Homo sapiens: one gene and its partners. The protein of the gene in region 4 interacts with the protein of the main gene of each other region in a biochemical or structural test. Each region holds a gene or a part of one and is shown on either strand. Other genes may lie near its edges. The genes, in order: WDR3, WDR6, WNK4 and OXSR1.

Region 1 (7,825 bases), on a different chromosome or scaffold from region 4:
GTCATGCCCACCTCATGCATATCTGACATTATAGGCTCAATGCAGCTAAACTGATTTACTTCTGCCCATTAAACCAGCATCAAAGCTTTTACACAGAGATTGGCAGTCTGAGACTGAACATATTTTTCAATGAATATCTATTGAAAACCTACCAATTAGACAGGCACCATTCTAGACACTGGAAATACACTATTAACAAGGCAAAATCCCTAACCTCATGGTACTTACCTTCTTGTACAGTGGTTCTCTAACTCTAGTATACATCCAAATCACCTGGAGGGCTTATGAAAACATTGCTAGAAAACACCATCTCATCTCTTCTCCCAGCACCTGTTTCTGATTTCATAAGTCTGAGGTAGGGCCTAGAATTTTTCATTTCTAACAAGTTTCCAAGTGATGCTGCTATTGCAGTTCTTGGACCACACTTTGAGAACTACTAGTACATGAAAGTCTGTCCTTCATTTCAAAATCAGAGCAGCCACTTACCCTTGGCATAGAAAATGGTTGAGCAACTTGGCACACTATTTTTGGAAAGATGCCATAATTTCTGCACTTTTATTAAATTCACTGAAAATCCATAATCCACTGGTTATTTATAAAAGGGACAAGAGGTGAATGAAGGAGATAACAAATCAGTCCCATCTGTTCTTTACATGGAAGAGTAAAAAGTATCCCCAAAAAACACCCATGCAACTTAAAACACACAAAAATAAAGAAGTTACAGTCTTTTATGAGGAGCTGTTTCTTTTTGCTATTGTTTTTTGTTTCTTTGGTTGGTTGGCTTAACTCTACAGGGTCTTTCTAATTATCAAATGCTGTTTTAGTCTAACACAAAAAAAATTCAATCTCAACTCTCTGATAATATTTTCTGGTAATAATCACTTACTGGCCTCATTGCTTCTCTCACAGGAACCAACATAAAGCCAATTTAAAATCAAGGAAAGATAATATTAACATGGTGATAATGCTCTTAGCCTAGGCCATTTGATTAATTCTTTCCCAATTCCTCTTATTCCTCCAGACTCTGTAGTTGTTCCTTATGTTTGTCTGTCTTTGGCCATCTACCACCTCCTTCTACAGTGTTTTCCTTGGAGAATTCATATAGCATGCCTAGGTCCAGGGACTCCCATCTGTCTATTTCCAGTCCTTTCCACCTACATGAATACTAATTATAGAGTTTCCAATATTTACTGAACATCTCCACTTGAATACCTTATAGTTTCACATTTAACATGTCTATAACCAAGCCTACCTTACTTCTGGTACCCCTCTCTTTTCTTCTGACACTAAGACACAATTTTCCCAGCTCTTCAGGCTCAAAACCATTTAATAACCTTTGAATTATTAATAAAAAAATATTATTATAGCAGCCAAGATTTAGAGAGTGCTTACGCTATAGTAACTGATAACATTATGCAATTGTTTAATTACATACAGCAATTAATGAAACCGAGCTAACATATGCAAAGCACTTAGAAAAGCCTCTAGCACATTGTAAATATGAGCATAAAAAAATTATCCATAAGGACCTGGTATGGTGGCTCATGCCTGTAATGCCAGCACTTTGGGAGGCCAAGGCCTAGGAGTCAAGAGTTTCAGACCAACATAGGCAACACAGCAAGAACCTATCTCTACAAAACATTTTTTAAAAAATTAACCAGGCATGGTGACGCACTCGGGGAGGCTGAGGCAGAAAGATCACTTGAGTCCAGAAGTTCGAGGTTGCAGTGAGCTATGATCACGCCACTGCACTCCAGCCTGGGTGACAGTGAGACTCTGTCTCTAAAAATAAATAAACAAATTCTCCACAATAACACCACAAGGGAAGTCACTCTTCCTATCTCTATTTTACAGACAAGGAACTCAGACCCAGAGATGGCAAATTGCTAACTCAAAGTCATTTAGCAGCTAATTGCCAAAGCCAGATCCCAATCCAGCCAGTCTAACTCCAAAATTTCTGCTTTTAACCACTATGCTAAACTGCTTCTCTTTGCCTCTTTCTCTTTAGTCAATTCCACCTGACTGTTACTCTGAAACAGGATCCCTTTCTCTCCAGCACTTTCAGTTCCAGCTCTTTATCACTGGATTACTGCACTGATTTTCCACCTAGCACCTCCGCCTCCATGTTTTTCACTCTTTTCATTTAAACGTCATAATACTACCGACTAATCTTTTCAAATGAGCTTTCCCTATCCTAAAGCCTTGAAAAGGCTAAATCGTTTGCCAGTTTCCAAAAACTCATCCTATCTAACCCCCGTATTTCTCGAATAAACCTTCCTGTCAGGCTGGCTAGTTTCCTTCCTCGTCCCGCGACCTTGTATTCTTCATATTATTCGTTTTACTTAGAATAACATCCATGTTCTCCTCTACTTCTTTTAACTAATATTATCTTCTGAGGCCCACTTCCTTTCGAGTAAGCCCAATTCTAGCAGCCTTTTTTCATCGCCTCGATATTTAAACTACCTCCCATACAACTTGCACTGTTCACTTTGTTCCACGTGCACAGCTTTCGCCTCCTTTCTGACAGTTCACGACCAAACCTTCTTCCGAGACCCCATGATCTCCGCTTCCTAACCTACAGCCCCCAAAACGATGTTTCCAAGATGCACTGAAGGCCTGGACCGTGGCAACAGACCTGCCACACATTCCTAAACGAGTCTTCGGTCAGGGGAGGGTGACGGAGGGTTCCACACACCGAACACACGGTCATATCATCCTCAGGCCAGCCCGTGCACACGCACGGTCAGGCAGCTCTGCTCAGCACCCGCAACCGCGCCGAGTAGCTGAGGGGCTTCCAAGTACTGCTGTGGGGACGCCCGTAGTTACCTGAGTTCCCCCAGCCCTAGCAACCGGCCTTTAACACGCCCGTCTCGGCTGCTGCTGACATCACGAACGCCTCAGCCAGAATCTGCAAAATCGGAGCCGCAGATAATGCTCTCCGCCCCAACCACGCACCTCCAGGACTCACCTCAGCCTCCACGAGGCTCCCAGCCGATTGGACCCGCCCACAAGACCTGCCCCTTCCGGGTCCGTTCCGGAAGCCTCTTCCGCCAGAGGTTCCCTTTGCCTTCTAGGAGGAAATGACGGAGAAAGCCGGGCGCTGATTGGTGAGCTCTGGCCAGGAGCGGAAGCCGGTGTTTCGCAGCCCAGAGCATTTGCAGCTGGTCACTCCAGTCTCCTGGGACTTTGACTCGCCGTACTCGGCGCGCTCCTGCTGAGGGTCGCCGGAGATGTCGCTCGGCCGCCTTCTACCAGGAGCCTGATCCGTGCCGCCCGCCGCCCGGATGGGACCACCAGAGTGCTGTGAGAGGAGGGACTGAGGCCGGGAGGGAAGGCGGGGCGGAGAGGGCCGGGGGCGCGGTCCGAGGCGCTCGGGACTCGGCCCTGGTCAGGATTGCAGGCTGAGGGTTAGTTCTGTCACTTCTCTTGAAGAACGAGCCTGGCGCCACTTCCTCGCATGTTGGTTAGGTTCTTTCCCGAGGCGTTGTCGGGGACGCCGTCTCTACGAGAAGTGAAAGGGTGGGCAGTCGGCGGGCACTAGGAACAGTGGTGCTGTAGCCAAGGAGGCGGGCGCCCTAGGGTGCAGGTGAAATGGGGCAGGCGGGAGCTCTTGCTGGTTGTAGTCCCAAAGACAAGTCCGTGTTGCCGTTCCTGTGGACTGGACATTCTACGGAACCGAGAGCACCTCGGGTGAGGGGTGGGTAGACGCTGAGCCCAGGATGGTGCGTTGTCTAGGTTCCCGCAATCCCTGGAGTGACACTGGCCTGGCTTTGTGTTTCCGCTCTCTGGCCGCTTGAGGGGGAAGTGACCAAGGCTGACTCCTCCTTGTTTGCTCACTGAGACTTAAGTGCTCTTTCACCAAGTGGGAATTAGCTTTTCTCTCTTGCATTTCTGCTACTTTTATTCTTGAGCTGCATAGAAGTGTTTAGAAATGAGTTCTGATGTCTAGAGCTGTGCAAAATTAAAGCTAACATAGCTGTACAAAAGAAGATCCTGCCGGCGCTTCTTGAACAAGGTATCTGCAGCCAGCCTAGAAATTAGACTTTTGTCTACATTATCTGATTTTCTTTAGAGTTTCCTGAGCTTAATGCATGTTCAGCTAATCTTCCATATTCAAGAAAATTGCAATAGCAAAGAATGCGTATGATGAGACTGTGGACAGCTGTAGCAGCATAGGAGTTTTGAAACAAGATTGCTGTGTATTGGATAAATGAGAAGGGAAGAAATTGTGGCCACAAACTATTATTTTAATAAGCTTGGTGGGAAAGGGAGCATTTGAGTGGGTATGTATGGTTAATATCCCTGACAGGTGCTGTGCATTATATTATTATGGGGAGAAGTGTGTGCTTCAATGGAAAACTACATAGTTTAGATTCTATCTTAACACCCCTTGGAATAACTAATTCTAAAAAAGCTATTTTTCAGTTACGTAAACTAGGTAAGTGACATCAATGCTAAATAATTATTGTCAAGACATGCGAATTCTCTCAGAGATTCAGTGGAAGTTTTGCCTCCTTTTGCACATTTATTTCAATATTCCTGCTCTAAGGTGTCTAATTCTGGGATTTTCTTTATCTTCTCTGCCTGGTTCCATTTTGAGTTAAATAAAATCTTGAACACGGGTTTGGTTTTATATTTGAATGAGTCATGATTTTACCTTTTCTTAAAAAACTATCTTAATATTATTAAATATTATGGGATGGGACAACCACAGATGGAAAAAAATGATTTTAATAAGAGTTGGTATCAGAGCAACTGTGAGTGGTAAGGTAATGCATCTTACAAAATTCCTTATACAATGTTTCAAGGATGTAACTCTACTTCCTTATTTAAGTTTCAAAATGCCTAATATATCAATATTTACAATTAAAACATAGTGCAGTTCATTTAATATGAAGGGGTACTACTAATTTACTGTTAGGATATGTTCTTTGGGTGCTTTTGAATTATGATGTTAAATTTGACCCAAGCCATTGACAAGCTTAGGAATGTTCTTGTTATACTGTATTTATTGTTGACATATTTGACTACTTCAGTTAGTCTTCCAATCTGAAAATCTTTTTTAAAAAATGTCTTTCTGATGGCATAAAATGATTCTTAAGTATGGTGTTGGATGGTGGCATAAAATGATTCTTAAGTATGGTATGCACACATATCCTCATGTACTCTGAACTGTTAAATATTGAAATACAAAGTCATAAAGAATGGTAAACCCGGTAATTAATGGCGGTCAAGTGCATGCACCAGCTCTCTTTGTACTGTTGTTATCCAGGCTGGTCTGATCAATGTAAGCATTTTGAAAGACAGGTAAACAGGTTAAAAGTTACCATTTTTCTCTCTTAAATGATATCATTTTCTTTCTATCCAGAAAAAAAGTTTTTTTTGAGATGGTGATCCAAGGTATTATGCCCAATTTTGCCCAGTTTTGAACAATAAAATCTGATCTCTCTAGCCAATCCAATTATTCATATTAAGCAGTATTTAAAGGACTTCTTAAACTAAAAGATGACAGGATTTGAGGAAAAAAAAAACAAGTTACAGTGTAATGAGAGCTGTTTACACTGCACCATTTGAATTATAAAAGATACATAGTGGGTTATCTTTGTCTTTAGGTCCTCTTCACTAAAGTACTGAAGATCATATGGATATGGAAATAGATTTGATTCATTATGGAATCTTCTGTTTGTCCCATGTAGACTTTTTGATCCTTGGAAATTAATGTCTTGCTTCAAGAGCCTTTTTTTTTTTAACTAGGGCTTAGTGTTTGTTTATGAACTTATTAAAAGTACAGAGCTGATCAACTGATTTTCAGTGGACAGTCTTGCTCTCCTTTAATGTTAGCAAAAATTCTGGCTGTGGCTATAGATTACTGGGTGTAGGAGCCTTCTCCTCCTCCCTTTGTCACTTAAGCAATCTGTTTGCATTCTATCACTGAGATTCTAATTCAAATTTATTTACAAATCTACTTGTATGAGCTCATATACAAATATTCTGGGGAGTGAAAGGATCTGTATCTTTCATGTGATTCTCAAAGGGGCCTGTGACCTTGAGAATGTTAAAAACCACTGTTCTCTCAGGGATCAGGTTTTTCTGCCTAGCTTGGGTTTGTGGCTCCATTTACTGTATGTATTACTAAGGTGTATATGTGTTTAGGGGAAGGAGAGATTCAAACCTCTTTTTGGTGAGAAACATCAATTCTGTTTAGAGATGGAGTTGAAAAAGAATTCAACCTCTGTTAAATACTGTGACACTTCATAAAATGCCATTAAATTTTGTCCTACAATAAGAGCTATGAGCATTACTTTTACTTATTTAACATCCAATATCTTGTGGGTCACAATTACTTAAAAGCTAGGAAAAGGATCCAACAAACTCTACTGACCAGGTATGATCAGGGATATAGGAGAACCACCAGGGTATAATGTCAAAGAAGATAATAGAGTTTTGAGGAGGAAATGATCAGTAATAAATGTGGATAAAATTGGATTAATTCTTGGATTTGACATTTGGGAAGTTATTGTTGAATAGAGTAGTTTTCGTATAGCTGTAGAGCGGAAGCAAAACTGCAGTAGGTTGGGCAAATGTACGAAGAGGAAGTAGAGCTACAAAACAAATTACTCTTAAAAAGTCAAGTGGTAAAAAGGAGTTTAGTATTCTGAAGAAGAAATGAAGTAGAAGAAATAAAGGAGGAAAACCTTTTTGAGAACAGGAGGATTGAGAGGAAGGAAAAAGCCAAGATGTAATTGTAAAAGGAGAATTTATGTTGTAACACTCTCTTAAGAGGAGAAATGGTCAAATGAAGGAAATTGATTAAATTAAAGTGATTTGGTGGGCTTAAACGTGTGGAATATACCCTCAAATCGTCACTTGGAAGTTGGAAACAGTGAATGATTTTGAGTTGGAGGGAAGTTAAGGTAATTGTTCTCCTATGCAGTTTTGACACCAGTTATCTCATTGAATGCTCACAATAATCTTAGGAGAATTACCCTTATTTTAGAAATTAAAAAACTGGTTCAGAGTCAAAGATAACAAAACTATTAGATGATGGTCCTGGATCCAAACTCAGACCCTATGATAACAGAGTCCAAATTCTCACATCGAACCATACTGTCTCTGCCTCACTGTGTAATTGTGTGTGGAAATATTTACCTTAAAATACTAAAGAAACTGGATTCAAAATTGTACCAGTATGATTTTACCTATCACAGAAAAAGGTAGTAACTACATCAAAAGTTGAGGAATTTTTTCCTCCCCCTTAATTTTGGTTTCTTTTCCTTCTTTTTGTTTTGTTTCTTTTTTGAGATAGGGTTTTGCTCTGTCACCGTGCTGGAGTGCAGTGGTGTGATCTCAGCTCACTGCAATCTCTGCCTCCTGGGCTCAAGCAATCCTCCTACCTCAGCCACCTGAGTAGCTGGGACTACAGATGCATGCCACCACACCTGGCTAGTTTTTTGTATTCTTGTAGAAATGGGGTCTCACTATGTTGCCCAAGCTGGTCTTGAACTCCTGGGCTCAAGTGATCTCCCCGCCTCAGCCTCCCAAACTGCTGGGATTACAGGTGTGAGCCACTGCGTCCAACCGATTTGGTATTTTTCAAATGTTCTGTAAGCATGTATTACTTAGAGTCAGAAAGAAAAGTTATCTTAAAAAAGCAATTTTGTCCTGAAAGTTGGCATTCAAGTTTACAAACTGAAAACTGTGTTTGTGTTTAATGGATTTGTTTTTAGATTATAGCTAAGAGCTTTTTTATGACAATGACTCATTGTCATAAAAAATCTGCAGGTAATTTTTTGAAATTATGAACTTTTGTCAAGCGTCATTCCAT
Region 2 (7,324 bases), about 11 Mb from region 4:
GGTAGTGCTGCTACCTGTGCTAACTGCTGGGGAGGGGTGGGCAGGGAAGCTGTCATGCAAGTGGTGCCCCCTCTGGTAATAACTCTCAGGAGGTTTCTGAGGTGTGGTCATCACCCTCATGCCCAAATTCTGGACCAAGAGAGGAAGATACAGCAGTTAGAAAGGACTTGGAACAGTGGCTTTGCGGCTGGTGAACCAGAGTGAAGAATCTGGCCGTGACCTGTGGCTGGATGGCTGCCACACTGCTATAGGCCCCAGAACAGAGGTGGTGACAGTCTCACAGCCCTTGAATGTCCCCCACCCTCAGAGGAATCTGGGCCAAAGAGTGGAAGGTGATGTCCTTGGGTCAGCCAGAATAACATGGAGCAAAGATACCAACTACTCTTCCAGAACCCCAAGAGGGTAGAACCCCTGCTTAATGGTTTGAGCAGGGACAGTGGAGAATGTTCTCATGAGAGGGGGTGGCCTGACTTTCGTTGCTAAGGTGGGCTGGTAACGCAGTAGGCAGGGCTGGCGAAGTAGGTTCCACCCAGGATGAAACCTGGGGTCATGAGGAACTCCCCGGGGGCTGGCCCTGCTTGCACCCTGGCGTATGTATGTAAGGCCCTGGATGAGGCCCAGCACTGCCTGCTCTCTCCTCACCCTCCACAGGCCGGAGAGTGGCCACCACTCTATATAGCCAGGCTGGAAGGCCAGGGTCCTGGCCATATGGCTCAAGCTTCCTTTGGAGAACCTTCTCTGGCCACTCTAATAGGGGGTGGGCCTCTTTCTTCTTAGGGCCAAATTAGGGCTTAAACTGAGAAAAGGAACTGCTCTGGGTCTTCCTGTAAGGCCTGATGTGACAGAAACCAGGTTCATCTGACCCAAAAGTCCAGGTGGGGGACAAGTGTACAAGGCCCCTCAGTGCCTGAGGTCAGGGGCTGCTGCTGCCTTTGGGGTAGGTAGGGAAGTGCAGCCTGCCACTGTTGCCTCCCAATATGGGCTTGGTGGGCATTGATGGTGGGTGCCCTGTGCAGGAGTGCTGAGTCTGCAGGAGTTCTCCAACATGGACCTTCGGGACTTCCACAAGTACATGAGGAGCCACAAGGCAGAGTCCAGTGAGCTGGTGCGGAACAGCCACCATACCTGGCTCTACCAGGGTGAGGGTGCCCACCACATCATGCGTGCCATCCGCCAGAGGTGAGCACCTGAAGCTGTTCTCACTGGAGCAGGGGGAGAAGACTGGGCAGGGCCTCCACAGAAGTCCTTGTCTGGGGCCAAGAGGACAGAATGGATTAACCCATTTGGGATTAAGTTCCATTTGTTAGACCAGGATTGGGACCCACTGAAAGACAGGCAATTAACAAAGGCAAATTAGCCCTCCTTGCAGGCACACAATGGGCAACTGGGGTTAGATAGAGATTGAGCACTTCTTTCTGATTAGATAAATGACCTCTTATCTTTGACCCCTTATCTGACCCCGTCACAGCAGGAAAAGGGTTTTTAAATAAACAACTTTCTTCCAGGGAGGAGGACCTCAGGACTCCCCGCCCCCTTTATTTAGTGGAAATGTCAACATTTCCACATAGCAGGTGTCTCTGTCTTTGGCATCTGAGGGAGAAGGATCATCATGAGTAACCCCCTCCTGCTCTTACAGGGCCAGTCTGAGATGGCTTAAGGGACTTCCAGGGGAGGTGGGTAGGGGCAAAGCTTGTGGCAGGCCTAGGGTCCACCTTGGCCAGCTCCTTCAGATCACCACCTTGCCTGGGGCTGCCCAGCCAAATGCCTGCTGCCCACCAGGGTGCTGCGCCTCACTCGCCTGTCGCCTGAGATCGTGGAGCTCAGCGAGCCGCTGCAGGTTGTTCGATATGGTGAGGGGGGCCACTACCATGCCCACGTGGACAGTGGGCCTGTGTACCCAGAGACCATCTGCTCCCATACCAAGCTGGTAGCCAACGAGTCTGTACCCTTCGAGACCTCCTGCCGGCAAGTATCTCCCAACTGGGGGCTGCCTTCAATCCTCAGACCAGGAACACCCATGACACAGGCACAGCCCTGCACTGTGGGCGTGCCCCTTGGCATGGGGCCAGGAGATCACTGGGTTATCCCGGTTAGTGATGCCCTCACCTCTCCCCACAAGTTGTTTACCCAATGGCTGGAAAGGGGTGGCTACTGGTCATCGTGACCACTGGAGTCAACACAGACTGATGTACCCACAGACACCAAAACTTGCCCCCTGAGTTCTGAAGCAAGGGGCAAGGCTGGGCCCCTAGCTTGTCCTGCCCATTCCTCCAGGTGTTGATCTTGATTCCACTTAGAGAAGCTGAAGCTGTGCCTCCCTCCCCTGTCAAGCCAGTTCTTTCCTCTTCAGGTGGCTGTTCTGGCCCAGCCCCTTCCCATCCCCAAGGAGCCCTTCAGCGCGCCCTGTTGCTTCTGCTAGCCTACCTTTCCCTGCCAGGCCCTTGCTCAGGGCCATGGCATTTAACTAAGTGCACCTGTGATCTTGGCCAAAAAACCATTGCAACTCACAGTAAGAGACTGGGTTTCGGGGAAGGAGGGGCTAGGGACATTTTGGCACTGGCCTGCCCTATTGTCTCCCATCCTAGTCTGTCCTGGTCCCTGGCAACAGGAACCTGGGCAGCTTATCCTGCCCACAGGTAAGCCCCTGGGAGCATCCACAACTGGGGACCTGCTCAGTGCCCCCCCTGCCTTACAGCTACATGACAGTGCTGTTTTATTTGAACAACGTCACTGGTGGGGGCGAGACTGTTTTCCCTGTAGCAGATAACAGAACCTACGATGAAATGGTAAGGGTCAACTGGGCTATTACTCTTGTGGGCTGGCAGGGGCTTAGACAAGTGAAGTACACACCTCTCCAGGTCTAAGGATGTGGGCCCAAATTATTCCTTGGGCATATCTGGTTGGTTTCCCTTTGGTCACCCTTGGCTGGCCTGGCCATAGAGTGGGGACAGGTTGAACACCCCACCACCCTGCTGCCCACAGAGTCTGATTCAGGATGACGTGGACCTCCGTGACACACGGAGGCACTGTGACAAGGGAAACCTGCGTGTCAAGCCCCAACAGGGCACAGCAGTCTTCTGGTACAACTACCTGCCTGATGGGCAAGGTGAGGGCCTATGGCCAGGCCTGGGGGGGGTGCCCTGAGTACAGCTTCCCTTTACCCAGCCCCCGTCTGCCACAATGGAGGGCTGTTTCTGGCTGCTTTCCAAATAGTTTTCTGCTCCTGGTGCCTCCCAAAGGCCATCCTTAGTGACTTTAGCAGACTGCCCCAGGACCTGTACTGCTTATTGGGTTATATCCATCCCTATCATTCCCTGATGCCCCAGCCTTCCTACTCCCTGGGGCTTGGGACACATGTCCCTTGCTAACCCAGGATGGGAAGGGATATGGACAGGCCCAACAGCAAGAAAGCTGGTTTCAGAGGGCCAGTAGTGTTGACTATACATTAGTGGGCTGAGATGAGGAGCCTCCAAGGAAGCTTTAGGTCTGGGTGTTTGCTACACAAGGAATGCATAGCTGGACCCACCTTGGTCATGCTCTTGGTGCCTATGAGGCCAAGCTCTGGCCAGCCCAGCCTAGGATCTCACGTCACCCTCCTCTTCTAGGTTGGGTGGGTGACGTAGACGACTACTCGCTGCACGGGGGCTGCCTGGTCACGCGCGGCACCAAGTGGATTGCCAACAACTGGATTAATGTGGACCCCAGCCGAGCGCGGCAAGCGCTGTTCCAACAGGAGATGGCCCGCCTTGCCCGAGAAGGGGGCACCGACTCACAGCCCGAGTGGGCTCTGGACCGGGCCTACCGCGATGCGCGCGTGGAACTCTGAGGGAAGAGTTAGCCCCGGTTCCCAGCCGCGGGTCGCCAGTTGCCCAAGATCAGGGGTCCGGCTGTCCTTCTGTCCTGCTGCAGACTAAAGGTCTGGCCAATGTCTTGCCCCACCCCGCCAGCCGCGATACGGCGCAGTTCCTATATTCATGTTATTTATTGTGTACTGACTCCATCTGCCCCGTCAAATAAAAAACCACAAGGTTCGAGCCGCCGGGCCCGACAAACTCCGGGTCGGCGAAACAGAGTCCGCGATAGGTGCAGCGGGCTGGCAGCTGGGAGCGCCCCGCAAGCGTCACGTGAGGGGGCGAGGGGCGGGATGCCCCTCCGCGGGCCCCGCCAATGATGAGCTGGATTGCGTGGGACGAAGGGTCGTCATTGGACAACCGCCGCGGGCGCCCTGGTCTCTGCTACCTGTAGCTGAGGGCGCTGTTGATGGGCAGCGCGGCGCGCTGGGAAGGCTCGTTCTCGCGAGAGTTCAGCTCCCTTCTTAGCCGTGGCTGCCTCAGCACCTCGAGGATCGACATGGACGCTCTCGAGGACTACGTTTGGCCGCGGGCAACCTCGGAGCTTATACTCCTCCCAGTGACGGGTCTGGAGTGCGTGGGGGACCGGCTGTTGGCGGGTGAGGCTTGGCTTGAGGCACGCCTGGTGGAAAGGGGGAAAGAAACAGCGCCTCCCAGGGGCGGTGCCACAGGGACAAAAGGGGTGCCCTGAGGAGAAGGACGGGCAGCAGGTTGAGGCCGATCGGAGGTGGGAAGGGAGCCCCGGAGATGGCGGGGACGAGGGCCAACCTGAAGAGGGCGGGGCCCGAGAGACAAAGCTGATGTGGCCGCCGCGGCGCTTCATAAACTTCAGCCCGCGTGGAAAGGGCGGGTGGAACCGCGGGAGGGTGCAGGGGAACGCGGCCGCGCGGAGGCGGAGGCGGAGGCCCGGGAGCTGAGGGTTGAGGGGGTGTGCTCCCTTCTAGGAGATGGGCGGGGGCTTGGCCTCTCCGAAGGAGACGGGGCCGAGCTGGGGGGGGCGGAGGGAGGAGGAGGAGGAGGAGGCGGAGGCGGCCCCGGCCCCTCAGGGGGTGTGGCCTCTTGGGGAAGGCGGGGCCGGGAGAGGGCAAGGGTGTGGCCTCTCGAGGGCGGGATGAGTCTCTTCCCCCTAAGGTGGGGGTGAAGATCCTCTGAGGAGGGTGGCGTCGCGGAAAACGGCGGATAAGACCTTTCCGAGTAGGGGGCGGTGCCCGGGGAAGCAGGGGCTGAGACCCCCTCCTGAGATGGTTGAGGTCCAGGAAATCAGGTGTGGAGGTCCCTCCAAGGAGAACCGGGTCGCAAAGGACAGGCGAGGCCTGGGACCTGAGGTGTCAGAGTCCAGGCTGGTCTCGAACAGTCATTACATGAAGCCACTAATGACCCATGTTGGTGCTGCTGAGTTGTATAAGGGTCCTGAGGCAGGGCCTTGGCGGTCAGGCCTTGAGTGAGTTGCCACCAGTCCTAAGAGGGTGTGTGTATGGGGTGGGGATGATCCAGTTTTGATCTGGTGTGGGGGTTCTTGGAGCGCGGAGTTCCTACCGCGAGCTAAACTCCTAAGGCTCCTTGAGGGGGAACAACGAAGCAGAAACTCAAAGAACCACAAGAGTGAACTAGGAAAAGGGGTGAGTTCCTGGCAAGAGGGTAAGCATGCCAAAGGCCTTGAGGCTGGAAGAATCTGTCATTTTGGGGGAAGGAGGGAATTCTTGTGAAGTTAGAGCAGGAATGGAGTCTGGGAGGAAAGGAAGCTGGACAAGCGAGCAGAGGCCACATTGTTTCAGGCCTTGATCTGACTTTATCCCTAAGGGCAGTGGGGAGAACCTATTGAAGGGTTTTAAGGTGGGGAATAACTTGGGAAATGCAGTTTAAGAAGCTCTGCAAGTGAATTCACCTACTTCTGTGGCTTCCAAAGTGACTTTTATATAGCTACAATTCTGTGTGTGTGTGTTTTTTGTTTGTTTGTTTGTTTGTTTTTGAGACAGTCTTCCTCTGTCACCCAGGCTGGAGTGCAGTGGCACGGTCTCGGCTCCCTGCAACCTCCGCCTCCCAGGTTCAAGTGATTCTCCTGCCTCAGCCTCCGGAGTAGCTGGGATTACAGGTGCCCACCACCATGCCCAGCTAATTGTTGTATTTTTAGTAGAGATGGGGCCTCACCATGTTGGCCAGGCTGGTCTCAAACTCCTGACCTCAAGTGATTCGCCTGCCTCAGCCCCCCAAATTGCTGGAATTATAGGCATGAGCCACCATACCCGGCCTCTCTAGCCTCTTCCTGAGCTCTTCATTTCCTGTTCCATCCACCATACTCAATGCTCTTGCCCATCTCAGGGCAATCATACATGCTGTTTTCTCCACCAAGAAAGCTGCAAACCCTCCCATTGCTCCCCACCCCCCCCCCCCCGCCCCAACATTTCCCAGTCCCCCTCTTCCGCCTCCTTTCCTCTGGCTAACTGCTGCTTATCCTTGAATCCTAACTCTAAATATTGTGTCCTCAAGTTGGCCTCCCCTTACACTCACCCAGTCTTGTTAGATTAGACCAGGGTTTTCTCAATCTTGCCTCGATTGACCTTTTAGACCAGATAATTCTTTGTTGGAATGCTGTTTGTGCATTGTAGGATGTTTAGCATCATCCCTGGCCTTACTTGCCAGTAGCACAACCCCTGGAGACAGCCGTACGTGTCTCCAGCTATTGCTAGATGTCTCCTGTGGGGAAAGTTGCCCCCTGTGGAGAACCACTGGATTAGACTTTCTCATTTTACATCTTTTATTTTCTTTTTGCATTGTCAAAATCCTTCTCATTTTATTTTACTTTTTTTTTTTTTGAGACAGAGTCTTGCTCTATTGCTCAGGGTGGAGTGCAGTGGTGCAATCTCAGGTCACTGCAACTTCCACCTCTTGGGCTCAAGAGATCCTCTCACCTCAGCCTCCCAAGTAGCTGGGACTACAGGCATGCGCCATTATGCCCAGCTCATTTGTATAATTTTTTTAGAGGTGGAGTTTTGCCCTGTTGCCCAGGCTGGTCTCAAACTCCTGGGCTTAAGCGAGCCTCCTGCCTTCCAAAGTGCTGGGATTATCGGTGTGAGCCACTGTGCCAGGCCCCATCTCTATTTTTTTTTTAATTAAAAAAAAAAAGTGAGGTGAGGAGGAGGCTCTGAGTTTGAGAAATTTGTGGTTGAAGTGAACATCAAGCGTGACTGATGAGGCTGGGCGCGGTGGCTCACGCCTGTATTCCCAGCACTTTGGGAGGCCGAGGTGGGCGGATCATGAGGTCAGGAGATCGAGACCATCCTGGCTAACACAGTGAAACCCCGTCTCTACTAAAAATACAAAAAATTAGCCGGGCATGGTGGCGGATGCCTGTAGTCCCAGCTACTTGGGAGGCTGAGGCAGGAGGATGGCGTAAACCTGGGAGGCAGAGCTTGTAGTGAGCCAAGATCGCGCCACAGCACTCCAGCTTGGGCGGCAGAGTGAGACTTTGTCTC
Region 3 (7,021 bases), on a different chromosome or scaffold from region 4:
TCATTCAAGATGCAACACAAAAGTATTTCCTCTCCGAAGCTCTCCCTCATGCTTGGGGCAGTTAGTCATCCCTTCCTGCGCTCCCACAGCACCTTGGCCGAGGCCCTATCTATCAATTTACTTCCCAACCCGTTTGGTAACGTCATGTCTATCCACCATGCCCCCTGACTCAGTTTCTCCCTGGGGCCGGGCAGACATAGGCTAGGAGAATGCTGGCAGAAGATGCGGAGGCGGCAGCAGGGTGCGGCAGGGGGGAACTTCCCAGTGGGGGGCTCCTTCCCGGAGGACGTGTCCCCCCACCAGGACTCTGGCTATGCGCCCTCCCCCAGGTACCTGAGGCGGTTCCGGGAGATGAAGCCGCGGGTCCTTCAGCGCTGGAGCCGCCAAATCCTGCGGGGACTTCATTTCCTACACTCCCGGGTTCCTCCCATCCTGCACCGGGATCTCAAGTGCGACAATGTCTTTATCACGGGACCTACTGGCTCTGTCAAAATCGGGGACCTGGGCCTGGCCACGCTCAAGCGCGCCTCCTTTGCCAAGAGTGTCATCGGTGCGTCTCTCCAGGAGGGTCCATGCCATTCCTTCCTCCCCCACCTCAGAAGAGAACCTGGGGACTCCCTCCCCTCAGCAAGGGCCTTCAAGGTCCACAAAACTACCAGACGACAGGGAAGCTGAGGAGACCTATGGCACCCACCTCAACCCCACTGTGGGCCGGGGTCACTTGCACTCGCAGGGTTGCCTGGGGCTGCCTAGCCCAGTGGGAAGGACGAGGCCAGAGTGCCCAGCAATCTGATCCCTGCTGTGGACCCTACAGGGACCCCGGAATTCATGGCCCCCGAGATGTACGAGGAAAAGTACGATGAGGCCGTGGACGTGTACGCGTTCGGCATGTGCATGCTGGAGATGGCCACCTCTGAGTACCCGTACTCCGAGTGCCAGAATGCCGCGCAAATCTACCGCAAGGTCACTTCGGTGAGAGGGATGGGGCTGGCGGGAAAGGCAATTCCAGGGCCACTTCCCCTTTTCCTGCGCCGGCCAGCCCGCAGTCAATGCCCTTTGCCTGCACGAAAACAGGCTAGACACAGAGTCGCCTTGGTGAACACAGAAGGATATTGAGTGCACACGCGCCCCCACCAGTACACGCTATTTAGAATAATAATATGTGTGGTGCTCCCAAGAGTTCACAAATGATTTCGCATCCCATCTCTCATCCAATCCTTCCAGCTGCCCTGTGAGGTGAGCGGGGCAAATGTTCCACCCTGCGATTTACAGATGAACAAACAGCGGGAGACTTGTTCAAGATCACACTGTAAATACTTGGGGGGGGGGCGGGGATTAGGATTTGAAATCACATCTTCCAGTAGCAGTCAGGCTTTTGCAACTGCACGCGCAGCTGCCTAAGGAGGGAGTGGAGTAAGGGGTGGGGGGTGGTGTCAAGCCGAGAGCTGGGGATCAGAGGACGGGAGGTGTCATGCAACCCCTTCCCCAGGGCAGAAAGCCGAACAGCTTCCACAAGGTGAAGATACCCGAGGTGAAGGAGATCATTGAAGGCTGCATCCGCACGGATAAGAACGAGAGGTGGGGGTGAAAGGGCAGAGCGTGGGTAGAATAGGGCCGCGGGCCGCGGCGGGCTCGGCTCACCCACGCGTCACCCTCAGGTTCACCATCCAGGACCTCCTGGCCCACGCCTTCTTCCGCGAGGAGCGCGGTGTGCACGTGGAACTAGCGGAGGAGGACGACGGCGAGAAGCCGGGCCTCAAGCTCTGGCTGCGCATGGAGGACGCGCGGCGCGGGGGGCGCCCACGGGACAACCAGGCCATCGAGTTCCTGTTCCAGCTGGGCCGGGACGCGGCCGAGGAGGTGGCACAGGAGATGGTGAGCGGAGGACAGACTGTGCTGCCACTGGACGTGTAAAGGACATTGACTCGAGGGGACAGTGCAACAGGGATGGGGCGCAGGAGGGGTGGCAGCGATGGGGGCGGGGCACCTCACCCCTCTCAAAATCTCCTGCAGCGTCTCCCTACCTCTCCAGCCCTAACTTACCCGCACGCACACCCAGTTTTCCTTTACAGAGGGAGCCCTGGGTCCTCCAGCGTCCCTGCTTTACCTCCAGCTGATCTGTTCTTCCTGGGATGCCCTTCTTGCCAATTCATCTTTTCCTTCTTTCCTCCCTCCCCATTTTTCTTTTTCTTTTTCTTCCAATATGATCAGAACCATCGATTTCGGGAAGCCGTCCCCTTTGGAGTCAAACTTAAATGCTTCTTTCCACTTCAGCATGTTCTCGGTTACAGCACTCCCCACTATCGGTCCTGTCTTAAACCTGAATAAGTTCCTATCTTTCTTCTCCACTAGACTATAAACTCCCTGAGGGCAGAGACTGTGTTTTATCGATTCTTCTATCCCTGGCAGTGCTTGGCACATAGTAAGAGCTCATTAATAGCCTACATCTGTACATGGCTTAAAGCACTTTCACATGCATTTGATCTTTGCTACCCATCCTGCATAGGGGGCAGTTTTATCTCAACTTGTTGATGAGGAAATGGAAATTCAGAGAGGTTGAATACCTTGTCCAGGGCCCCAAGTAAGTAAGTGGAAGAGCTGGATTGAAACTGAGGTGGTTCAGATTTTAAATCAGGTTACCCTTCCCCACCTCCTTTACTCATTCAGCAAAGCTTGCGGCTAAAAGGAATGAGGAGGTGATGAATGGAAGCTGGTAGAAGGGGAGAGGCATAAGATGCAAGGGCAGAAGCTTGGGGGCTGGCTTAGGAAGTCCTGAAGGGAGTATGGGATTCTTTTTTTGGGAGTAATGGAGTCTCACTCTGTCACCCAGGCTGGAGTGCAGTGGCGCTATCTCAGCTCATTGCAACCTCCGCCTCCTGGGTTCAAGCAATTCTCCTGCCTCCGCCTCCTGTGTAGCTGGGATTACAGGCAAAAGCCACAACGCCCAGCTAATTTTTGTATTTTTAGTAGGAACGGGGTTTCACCATGTTGGCCAGGCTGGTCTCGAACTCCTGACCTCAAGTGACCCACTAGTCTTGGCCTCCCAAATTGCTGGGATTACAGGTGTGAGCCACCGTGCCTGGCCGAGTATGGGATTCTTAATAGAGACATGACAGTTGCAAGGGTGGAGACCACCTACGGTAGGTCAAGAATCTGAGAATGTGTTAGAAATTTAGAGCAGGTCTCCATAGCACGGCCCAACCTGACCTGAGATCAAATCTTGATCCATTGCTGACAAGGGATTCTTGGCCTTGGCACTGTTGACATGTTTGTTTTAGGGACTGTCCTGTGCATTGTAGGATGTTGAGAAGAACCCCTGGCTTCCGCTCACTAGATTCAGTAGCACCTACCCTCCAGTTGTGGCAACTAAAAATGTCTCTAGATAGTGCCAAACATCTCTTCTTCCCATTGGAAACCACTGACTTACTGTATAACTATGAACCAGCTACTTCATTAATCTCTAAAAATCGAATGGTAAGATTTATCCCACAAGGTTGTTTGGAGGATCTAGTGATGATAATGTAAGGAGCTGCCAGTTAACAGACATAGTGGGTAATCAGTAAGTGTTGGTTTTCTTCCTCCCATATCCTGGAGTTCCCAAGAAGGCGTCCTGATGGATCTTTGATAGGGGGTCCCAAGCTGTGTTCCTCATCCCCCACCCCAATTCCAGGTGGCTCTGGGCTTGGTCTGTGAAGCCGATTACCAGCCAGTGGCCCGTGCAGTACGTGAACGGGTTGCTGCCATCCAGCGAAAGCGTGAGAAGCTGCGTAAAGCAAGGGAATTGGAGGCACTCCCACCAGAGCCAGGACCTCCACCAGCAACTGTGCCCATGGCCCCCGGTCCCCCCAGTGTCTTCCCCCCTGAGCCTGAGGAGCCAGAGGCAGACCAGCACCAGCCCTTCCTTTTCCGCCACGCCAGCTACTCATCTACCACTTGTAAGTCACCCCTGATCTTGAGACGTAGGTCCCAGAACACCTTGGCCTCTGCCCCCTACCCAGAAGTTCACCCCCACAGCAGTCACTTACCCTGCCTTCCACCTCTAGCCATGAAGCTCCCTCCAGGAAGGAACTCTCCCACAGCTCCAGGCCCCTCCTTGCTTAGGCAGGCCCCATCCTCTGCCACTATTCCCTTTTATTTCCCCTTTTTTTGATCCTCTCCCTCCCCAACCAGCGGATTGCGAGACTGATGGCTACCTCAGCTCCTCCGGCTTCCTGGATGCCTCAGACCCTGCCCTTCAGCCCCCTGGGGGGGTGCCATCCAGCCTGGCTGAGTCCCATCTCTGCCTGCCCTCGGTGAGAGGGGGTCGCATGGGGGGCTCCCAGCCATTCCAAGCCTATGACCTATCTCCCTCCTTGTGAAACCCAATCTCATGATCCAGTCCCATGTCCCTGGAAATCCACCATTCTTGCCCTCCTCTTCCCTAATTCCATCTCCCTAATATCCTCCCAGCATCCTTGACACCATCTCCCTAGATCTCAACAGTTATCTTCCCCTGACCTCATGAACCCTTATCCTGTTTCAGGCTTTTGCCCTATCCATTCCACGTTCTGGCCCTGGAAGTGACTTTTCCCCCGGGGACAGGTATGTTCTGGTACAAGTTGGGGTGCCAGGGTGAGACACCTGGGGCACTGGGGTCCCAGTGTCTGCTCTGACAGTCATTCTCTCTCCTTTCTCTTTAACAGCTATGCCTCAGATGCAGCTTCAGGCCTTAGCGATGTGGGAGAAGGGATGGGACAAATGAGGAGACCCCCAGGGAGGAATCTCCGGCGCAGACCCCGATCCCGGCTGCGGGTCACTAGTGTAAGGATGGAGTACAGGAGATAGAGAGTAACCTACAGGGCCAGGAGGGAAGTGTCAGGGGGAGGCGGGGGAGGTCACCCAGAAAACGGGAGAAGCAGTGTATGACTAGTACTCAAGAGGCGGCCAGTCTGGTTTCTAATACCAGACTTTAGAGGTGGGGTCTACTTATCTCCAAGTCCATTGTGGCTGCTGTCACTTGGCTGGGGTAGGGTGGAGACACAGCATGATGAAGAGGGCTTGACCTTCTCCCCTCTGCTGACTTTGAATCTGAAGGTCTCAGACCAGAATGACAGAGTGGTTGAGTGCCAGCTACAGACCCATAACAGCAAGATGGTGACCTTCCGATTTGATCTGGATGGGGACAGCCCGGAAGAGATTGCAGCTGCCATGGTGAGGGGGAGAGAGATGAGGACAGAGTGTTTGGATCTGGAACAAGAGTCTCCTTCCTGATGTCCGCTGGGGCTGAAACCCACTGATCCGACAGCAAGCATTTTTAAATCTCTGGTTGACACTTAGCACAGTAACGCTGAAGATGTCTCAGCCCTTGTTTTGGGGGAGATTTCTGTTTATCCAGTGAGGTTTGGCTTCTCAGCTGGAGCAATTTGAGACTCACATTGACCGGGTACACACAAGTGCTACGTATAAGTGCCTGGTAGATGTGCAATACTGTGGCTGTAGGTGAAGGATGGACTGGGCAGCAGGGGCAATGAGCTTACCCAGGATCTTGGCAAATGGGCAAGAAAGGCTGTGAAGGGTGGAAAGGCCATGAAGGGTGTCCCTGTGCAGGGACAGCATAAGCAAAGGCATTCCAAGTAGAGAGTGTCTTGGAATATGGGGCTGGGAGGGCTTCATGAGGAAACCACTATCACTGGAAGTAAAGATTCCTATAGGAGAGTTGTGGGGAGTGAAGCCGGGTAGGTAGAGTGGGCCCAGATTGTAGAATAGACAATGTTAAGAGTTAGGCAGAGGCCAGGCGTGGTGGCTCACACCTGTAATCCCAGCACTTTGGGAGGCCGAGGCCGAGGCAGGCAGATCACCCGAGGTCAGGAGTTCAAGACCAGCTTGGCCAACATGGTGAAACCCCGTCTCTACTAAAAAATACAAAAATTAGCTGGGTGTGGTGGCGCATGCCTGTAGTCCCAGCTACTTGGGAGGCTGAGGCAGGAGAATTGCTTGAACCCGGGAGGCGGAGGTTGCAGTGAGCCGAGATCACACCATTGCACTCCAGCCTGGGCGACAAGAGTGAGATTCTGTCTAAAAATAAATAAATAAATAAATAAATAAATAAATAAATAAATAAATAGAGAGGCAGAGCAGGCTAGGTCCAGTGGCTCACACCTGTAATCCCAGCACTTTGGGTGGATGAAGTAGGAGGATTGCTTGAGCCCAGGGGTTCAAGACCACCCTGGTAATATAATGAGACCCTATCTCTACAAAAAATTTAAAAAATTAGCCGTGTGTGGCGGCACATGCCTGTCATCCCAACTACTTGGGAGGCTGAGGTGGGAGGATCACTTGAGCCTGGGAGGTCAAGGCTGCAGTGAGCTTTGATCACGCCACTGCACTCCAGCCTGGAAGACAGAGTGAACTTTGTCTCAAAAAAAAACAAAAACAAAAAAACAAAAAGGCACAGTGTAACGTGACAGTAGGCTTTATGAAAATCATCTGCCATGGGATGTGGAAGGGGGAAGGGAAAATACCTGGGAGGTAGACCCAGGAAGCCATCTGTGGACAAAGGAGAGAGTGGCTTATGGGAGGGAAGAGGAGAAAGGGTGAATCTGAGGGTTGTTTCGGGAAAATAAGTTACTCTGTAATCCAGTAACCTATTGACGTAGTAGAGAACATAGTACATAGTAGATGCTCAATAAATATTTGCTGAGTTGATATGATTGGGAGTTAGGGAGAAGGGATGTCAAGGACAACTTGTAGGCCACCAAAGGAGAGTAGGAGAGTAGGCCACCAAAGGAGAGAGGAAATTAGAAATGAAAGAAGGTTTTTTTTAAGGAGGTCATGATGAGCTTGAGTGAAGAAGGGACAGCCAAGACAAGACCCTCCATAGCCATGGATATGGGTCAGGCAGGGCTGGAGAGATGTGGATGGAGGAGTAGTCAGTACAGAGTTGAGAGTGAAGGGAGATGAGCCGGCAAAGCCAGAGACACAGAGGGTTGCAGAGTGTGTCTCAGCGCATACCACCAGTTCTGGAGTGGGAAGCGGGAGGGTA
Region 4 (7,253 bases):
GGTAAATCTTATGGTACGTAAATTATATCTCAAAATTGTTTTTTTAAATGAAAAAATATTTATGCTAAGTGGAAGAAACCAAACATGAAAGACCACATGTTATATGATCCCATTTATATAAATGTCCAAAAAAGGCAAGTCCATAGAGACAAAAAGTAGATTTGTGGTTGTCTAAGGCTGGAGGTGGAAAAAGGGATTAACTCGTAAGAAAGCACAAGAGATCTCACGGGGATGATGGAAATATTCTAAAACTGGATTATGGTGATAGTTGTACGACACAGGGAATTTACTAAAAACCACTAAATGTTACACTTAAAATGGGTGAATTTTATATTAAATTATACCTCAGTAAAGTTGTTTTAAATCTATGAAAGATGGTCAAATCACATTGGAGTTCCTAACCTTTTAAAAACCATGGACCACTTTGTGAATGTGAGGAACACTAACCCTATCCAGAAGACTGAGAGACTCCCTTTTGCCCACTCACAGACATCCTATGGGTCTGAGGACACCAAATTAACAAATCACGAAATCTCTAGCGCCTTTGCAACTCTGAAATTCTCTGCCACCTTAACAGCAAAGGCTTTGAGAATGACTACAACCATCCTCTTCACCCTAGAAAGATGGATACACTACCAGAAAAAAAAAAAAAAAACTCTTCTTTTAAAATGATGATAGGGAACCTCCTCTTTACTTCTCTGACATCATTTTGGAATCTTCCATTTAATCCTTTCCTTCAATATGAAACTCTGACTGGGGGAACCAGAAGCAATCAGTCCAGACCGGGAACTAGCTGTCTTTAGAACCAACGAATACATGTCAAAGACCCAATATGTAGCAAGGACACAGGCCCATGAAGTGGCTTAAGCAAAGATGTGATGTCTTTATTTAGTCCGAGTTGTTTTGTTTTGTTTTTGTTTTTCCTATACGAACCAATATTGCTTTAAGCCCAGATTGTCTTAAAACAAGAGGCAAGTAAAAACAAAAATTATTTCACGAAGTTCTTTTTAAACCCACAGTGAAATAAACACTGACACCCCCAAGGCAGCTAGGAAGTCTTCAGTTGGTCTTTGTTATAAAACTAATTTTAGGGCAGGATGCTGGCAAAGCAGATAATTCGCCTTCCTCCAATACACAGGTGTCTGCTCATGTCCGTTGGATTGAGCCTGTATAGCTAAACATTTTGATTTCCAAGGTCACTGGGTTATTGTTGTCCAACAAATACTCCCCTCATCCCCAGTCCCCAGCCTCCTCCCAATCCCTAGGCTTCTGTGAGAATTACAATCTATGTGCAAGTTTTGGTCTCTGCCAACTGGTATTCCTGGACCCCCTTCAAATCTTTTCACACACCAGCCCAATTTATCGGATCACGTCAAGGCACTATTTGAGGGCCTCCAGTGATACTTAAAATTCCAAAATCTGTACCAAAGCTGAGAAGATCCCTAAGATCTGGCTCCTCCCTTCCCTCTCTATCCTTGCCAGCCTTCCTTCAGGTCCTAAAACAAATCAAGCTCTTCCCTTACTCAAGGCCACTGCATCTCTATATCCCTCTGTAAGGAAAAATCTTCCCGAGGCTCTTAATCCTCACTTCTCATGCTTCAGGGCTCAACTGAAATGTTATCGCCTCAGAAAAAGAATTTTCCTTGAAATCACCCTAAGTAGATCTCCAGGTTATTCTCTATCAGAACATCTTGTTTATCTCCTTCATGGCACTTGCCAAAGCCTCTTCAAATTTTTTTTTTTTTTTTTTTTTTTTTGAGTCAGAGTCAGGGTTTGTCGCCCAGGCTGGAGTGCAGTGGCGCGATCTCAGCTCACTGCAAGCTCCGCCTCCCGGGTTCAAGGATTCTTCTGCCTCAGCCTCCCGAGTAGCTGGGATTACAGGCGCGCACCACCACACCCAACTAATTTTTGTATTTTTAGTAGAGACGGGGTTTCACCATATTGGCCAGGCTGGTCTCGAACCCCCGACCTCGTGATCCGCCCGCCTCGGCCTCCCAAAGTGGTGGGATTACAGGCGTGAGCCACCACGCCCAGCCCTTCTTACTTCTTTTTGTCTTCTTATTTAATGTCTACCTCCCCGACTGGAAAGTCAGTTGGAAGGAGTCGTAAGTTGGGTCTCGGTTGCTCAGCGCGGTTCCTGCAGCTTCACCTGGAGGATCCCCAGTTCGCCCCAGCACGGATGGAGGAAAAACTTAAAGCTCCCTATCTATCCCACAATCCCAGAAATCGATGGCTGTGCCCACTTCAAGATCCCATTTCTCACACAGCCTCGGAAAGGCCTGTCCCACACCTGCACTTTCTTTCTCTACAAGACACATGGGCCGCTCCTGTCCACACATTTGAGAATCCTGTACACAAATCTCTCCTGAGCCCCCTCAAGCCTCACCCCACCCCACGCCACCTCACAGGCGCGCGCCTCAAAACCCCCTTCCCGTCTCACACGCGCTCCTCGACACAAGCGTCCTACAAGCCCCCAGCCCCACAAGCGCCCCACGAATTCCTATGAGGGCTGCGCTCCCCGAGCTCCCGCGGCTCCCCACGTTCCCGTGTCCCCCGCCTCCCAGCGCCGCGCCTCCCCCCTCCGCAGCGCCTGCTCTCACCGATCACCTCCTGCAGCTCGTAATCGTCCCTGTTGATGGACCAGGGCAGGGCGCTCGAGTCCTCGGACATGACGGCGGCAGCGGCTCGCGGTCCTCCCTCAAACTCGCTGACCTCGCTCGTCTCCTCGCCGCGCGTCTCCCCACCCCCAACAGCCGCCGCCGCCGCCGCCGCGCCCCCACCAATCGTCTCGGAACAGCCACGGGTCGGACGGCGCCGGGGCGCGGGGTCACCGCGCGGCAGAGCAGCGGGGGCTCAGAGCTCCGGCGGACCTCGCCTCCTGCTCCTCCGAGTCCGGCACTGCCCGGCCCAGCCCACGTCCTGTCCTCGGCCTCCGCAGCAGCAGCGACAGAAGCTTTGCCTGGGCCCAGCCCCTCTGTCCCGCCCTCCACCCCAGCCCCACGCACGGGCCAAACTTTCCCCTCTTCCTCCACCTGCCGACACGCAGCGCGCTGACGTCACTGCGCTGGTCACGCCCCACCTCGGGCCCGCCTCCGGCCGCCATCTCCAGTGTGGCTGGATGTAAAGTGAGCAAGCTAGAAACCCGAGAAGGTAGGAGTTCGCGGTGAAAGGGAAGAAGTGCTTAGGTAGAGGTTCATCGAAGGCATCGAAAAGCCGTAGGAGAGCCTCAAGTAGCACAGAGGCAGTAGCCACACTAAGCATGGCGACCAAAGGGCAGCAAAGTAGAAGGGGCAGAGCCACTTCTAGCGCCTGGGGCACGCTGCTGTCTCCGTCGTCGCATTCATTGGTTTGTTTGAGAAGGAATCAGAAAAGCAATGGGTGTGGGTAGACGTCAGTCATAAATTGGTCCCGCCTCCAGGCTCTTAGCGCGCTTCTCCGTGTTAGGGCTGCAGCCCTTCAAGAGCTCCGTTACCGCGCTCGTCTTACCACTTCCTCTGGAGTGACGTCACGGCGTAACCGTCACACCCTCGAGACGTGCGAAAGGCTCTACAGGGTGTGGAGAAACCCTGAGGGAGCGGCTGGGTGGGGTAGCCTTTGGGTGTGGACCACTGCCAACTAGGATAAAAGGCCTTGGGCCACTGGTCGGAGTGAAACTGGAAGTTTGCCTGGTGACATTTTTTTCAAGGCGGACGTTCTCTCTAACGCTTGTCGCGGCGCTGTCTCTCGCGGGTCCACCCTGCACTGGGCGGGTTCTGTCCATTCGCAGCTTTAGATCTGAAGCTCAAATAAGCACCTGCCTTGAGGGACTCGGGAGGTTGTCTTTCTTCCCCCCGGACAGGGCTTGGGGTATTAAACAAGTGAGATCGACCCACGGATTTGGGGGTTGTCTCACGGGCGTTGGCTTTTGTCGCCCCCACTGAACAGTTTTCTCAGTTTGACTACGTACGGCCGTTAGAGAAATTAGCGAGCTGAAGACTGAACACGCTTGGTAAATTGGATTTTAAAAAATAATGAGCATCCAACAGGGATAGGGCTAGGTGCGAAACTGTTCTAGGTTGGACACCTTTCAGTCCAACGGCAGTCTTTAAGGAAGAGACCTTAGGCCGGGTGCGGTGGCTCACGCCTGTAATCCCAACACTTTGGGAGGCGGAGGCGGGCGGACCACCTGAGGTCAGGAGTTCGAGACCATCCTGACCAACATGGTGAAACTCCCTCTCTACTAAAATACAGAAAAATCGCTGGGCGTGGTGGCTGGCGCCTGTAATCCCAGCTACTAGGGAGGCTGAAGCAGGAGGCGAAGGTTGCAGTGACCCGAGAGCATGCCACTGCACTCCAGTCTGGGCAACAGACGGAGACACCGTCTCAGAAAAAGGAAGAGACCTTCACCTAGGCCCAGCTGAGACGGAGCAGGGACCCCTTTTAGGGCCTGCAGGCCCTCAACCATGGAAATAAAGGAAAATCTTGAGTTACTTCAAGAGAAATTCCCGGCACTTAGCTAGCCTTGAAAAGTTAATGAACCCCTTGATAAGCAAGAGGGCAGTAATAACTTTAAACATTAGCCAAAGAAACTAAAATAACTGGATGTTTGGTTCCCTATAAAAACTAAAGATAACATCAACACATGTCCCTGAGTTGTTTTTTAGAAACCCAGACCCCCACCAAATGGATCTGCTGGCACATAGACCTCAGAGAATGGGGAGCTAAGGACTGAACTCTGACTGGTGGTTTGTTTTTTCTCTAAGTTTCTTCTTCCTGAAGAAGGTCATGCCCACAAGCTGTAGCTAACATTCTTTTCTACTGATCCGAAATTTTTAGACAAAGCTTCACCTCTTTTATCAATCGCAAATCAGAAAATCTTTGAATCCACCTATGACCTGTGGGCTCCTGCTTGGAGATGTCCCCCCTTTTTAGGTCAAACCAATGTATAACCTCTGTGTATTGATTTATGACTTTACCTGTAACTTCTTCTTTTCCGAAATTACCCCTATCTTTAAGAATGCTTGGCTGGGCGCGGTGGCTCACGCCAGGAAGTTTAGGTCCCCAGTATGTATTTCATAAGTTTATGAAATATGTATTATATATAATGTATATTTATATATATATTAAGCTTGAGCTACACTAATTCTCCCCTCTTGCTAGGCGCCCTGCCTTTCTACTGCAGCAAAACCTCCGTGTGGCAATCTAATGTCACTGCACTGGGCAAGTAGACCTTAGTTTGGTTCTAAAACACCGCCAAGCACTGGAAGCTCTGCGCTGAGCTCTGCTGTGGGAGGTCCAACTGACCATGAAACCAGTCAACTAGAAGCTACTAGCGGGTTTCCACCTAGTTGGTTGGATTGGAGAACGTTTCATGAAGAAGGTAGCATTTGTACCAGATCTTGCAAAGTTAACATGATTTCAACAGGTGCACATTTAGAGGATAGAATAGTCCAGGCTCAGCAAAGGTGCCGCAGTTCCAGAAAGCATAGCACAGGCCTTGCTGTAAGTGGTTTTCAGCCATTACTACTGACAGTTTCTTTACCATATGTTCTGCCTTTTTCTTTTTGCAGGGAGGAGAGGGATGGGGATCAAATGTATCAGAAAGGAGCTAAATCTGATGGTAAGAATTAGCCTCAAGGTTTGTACCAATAGAAAGGTCTACAAACCAGAAATTCTTGGCTTGGGGTTGTTGAGTTGTATGACCCATGGACATACTTCAGTTTTGTTTTTGTTTTGTTTTGTTTTATTTTGTTTTGTTTTTTTCTCCCTGGCACGGTGACTCAAACCTGCAATCCCAGCATTTTGGGAGGCCCAGGCAGGTGGATCACCTGAGGTCAGGAGTTCGAGACCAGCCTGGCCAACAGGGTAAAATCCCATCTCTACTAAAAATACAAAAATTAGCCACGCGTGGTGGCTGGCGCCTGTAATCCCAGCTACTCAGGAGGTTGAGGCAGGAGAATCGCTTGAACCCAGGAGGCAGAGGTTGTAGTGAGCCAAGATCATGCCACTGCACTCCAGCCTTAGCGACAGAGAGTGAGACTCCATCTCAAAAAAGAAAAAAAGAAATTATATATGTATTATATATGAAATATAGACAATATGTATGAAGTATATATACTATATATAAATATATATGAAATATGAAATATATAACATATATGAAACAACATGAAATCTATAATATATATGAAATATATAACATGAAATCTATAATATATATGAAATCTATAATATATATGAAATCTATAATATATGAAATATATAATATATATGAAATATATAATATATGAAATCTATAATATATGAAATATATAATATATATGAAATCTATAATATATGAAATATATAATATATATGAAATCTATAATATATGAAATATATAATATATATGAAATCTATAATATATGAAATATACATAATATATGAAATATATTATGTATATGAAATATACATAATATATGAAATATGTATATGAAATATACATAATATATGAAATATGTATATGAAATTACATAATATATGAAATATGTATATGAAATATACATAATATATGAAATATGTATATGAAATATACATAATATATGAAATATGTATATGAAATATACATAATATATGAAATATGTATATGAAATATACATAATATATGACATATGTATATGAAATATACATAATATATGACATATGTATATGAAATATACATAATATATGACATATGTATATGAAATATACATAATATATGACATATGTATATGAAATATACATAATATATGACATATGTATATGAAATATACATAATATATGACATATGTATATGAAATATACATAATATATGACATATGTATATGAAATATACATAATATATGACATATGTATATGAAATATACATAATATATGACATGTATATGAAATATACATAATATATGACATATGTATATGAAATATACATAATATATGACATATGTATATGAAATATACATAATATATGACATGTATATGAAATATACATAATATATGAACTATATTATGTAAATGAAATATACATAATATATGAACTATATTATGTAAATGAAATATACATAATATATGAACTATATTATGTAAATGAAATATACATAATATATGAACTATATTATGTAAATGAAATATGTATATGAAATATGCATTGTATATGAAATATGTATATGAAATATGCATTGTATATGAAATATGTATATGAAATATGCATTGTATATGAAATATGTATATGAAATATGCATAGTATATGAAATATGTAT

The links.
Region 1: the proteins of OXSR1 (region 4) and WDR3 interact in a test that uses a peptide from one of them, tested with the Homo sapiens proteins (one study listed by BioGRID).
Region 2: the proteins of OXSR1 (region 4) and WDR6 interact in a test that uses a peptide from one of them, tested with the Homo sapiens proteins (one study listed by BioGRID).
Region 3: the proteins of OXSR1 (region 4) and WNK4 are reported together in a solved structure, tested with the Homo sapiens proteins (2 studies listed by BioGRID and IntAct, with this or other methods).

Annotation. Positions count from the first base shown.
Region 1 is NC_000001.11:117,924,926-117,932,750, reverse strand, and holds the start of WDR3 (WD repeat-containing protein 3), read right to left. Parts: upstream 3,013-7,825; 5' UTR 2,969-3,012; intron 1-2,968. UniProt on the Homo sapiens protein: Part of the small subunit (SSU) processome, first precursor of the small eukaryotic ribosomal subunit.
Region 2 is NC_000003.12:49,003,082-49,010,405, forward strand, and holds the start of WDR6 (tRNA (34-2'-O)-methyltransferase regulator WDR6), read left to right. Parts: upstream 1-4,309; 5' UTR 4,310-4,350; coding exon 4,351-4,450; intron 4,451-4,523; exon of another isoform or gene 4,524-4,578; intron 4,579-7,324. Other genes in the region: P4HTM (transmembrane prolyl 4-hydroxylase), read left to right, coding at 1,017-1,179, 1,780-2,089, 2,637-2,786, 2,983-3,106, 3,606-3,826. UniProt on the Homo sapiens protein: Together with methyltransferase FTSJ1, methylates the 2'-O-ribose of nucleotides at position 34 of the tRNA anticodon loop of substrate tRNAs. Required for the correct positioning of the substrate tRNA for methylation.
Region 3 is NC_000017.11:42,783,608-42,790,628, forward strand, and holds part of WNK4 (serine/threonine-protein kinase WNK4), read left to right. Parts: intron 1-329; coding exon 330-550; intron 551-814; coding exon 815-972; intron 973-1,489; coding exon 1,490-1,578; intron 1,579-1,658; coding exon 1,659-1,875; intron 1,876-3,670; coding exon 3,671-3,935; intron 3,936-4,170; coding exon 4,171-4,292; intron 4,293-4,522; coding exon 4,523-4,581; intron 4,582-4,682; coding exon 4,683-4,800; intron 4,801-5,073; coding exon 5,074-5,190; intron 5,191-7,021. UniProt on the Homo sapiens protein: Serine/threonine-protein kinase component of the WNK4-SPAK/OSR1 kinase cascade, which acts as a key regulator of ion transport in the distal nephron and blood pressure.
Region 4 is NC_000003.12:38,161,294-38,168,546, reverse strand, and holds the start of OXSR1 (serine/threonine-protein kinase OSR1), read right to left. Parts: upstream 3,011-7,253; 5' UTR 2,671-3,010; coding exon 2,601-2,670; intron 1-2,600. UniProt on the Homo sapiens protein: Effector serine/threonine-protein kinase component of the WNK-SPAK/OSR1 kinase cascade, which is involved in various processes, such as ion transport, response to hypertonic stress and blood pressure.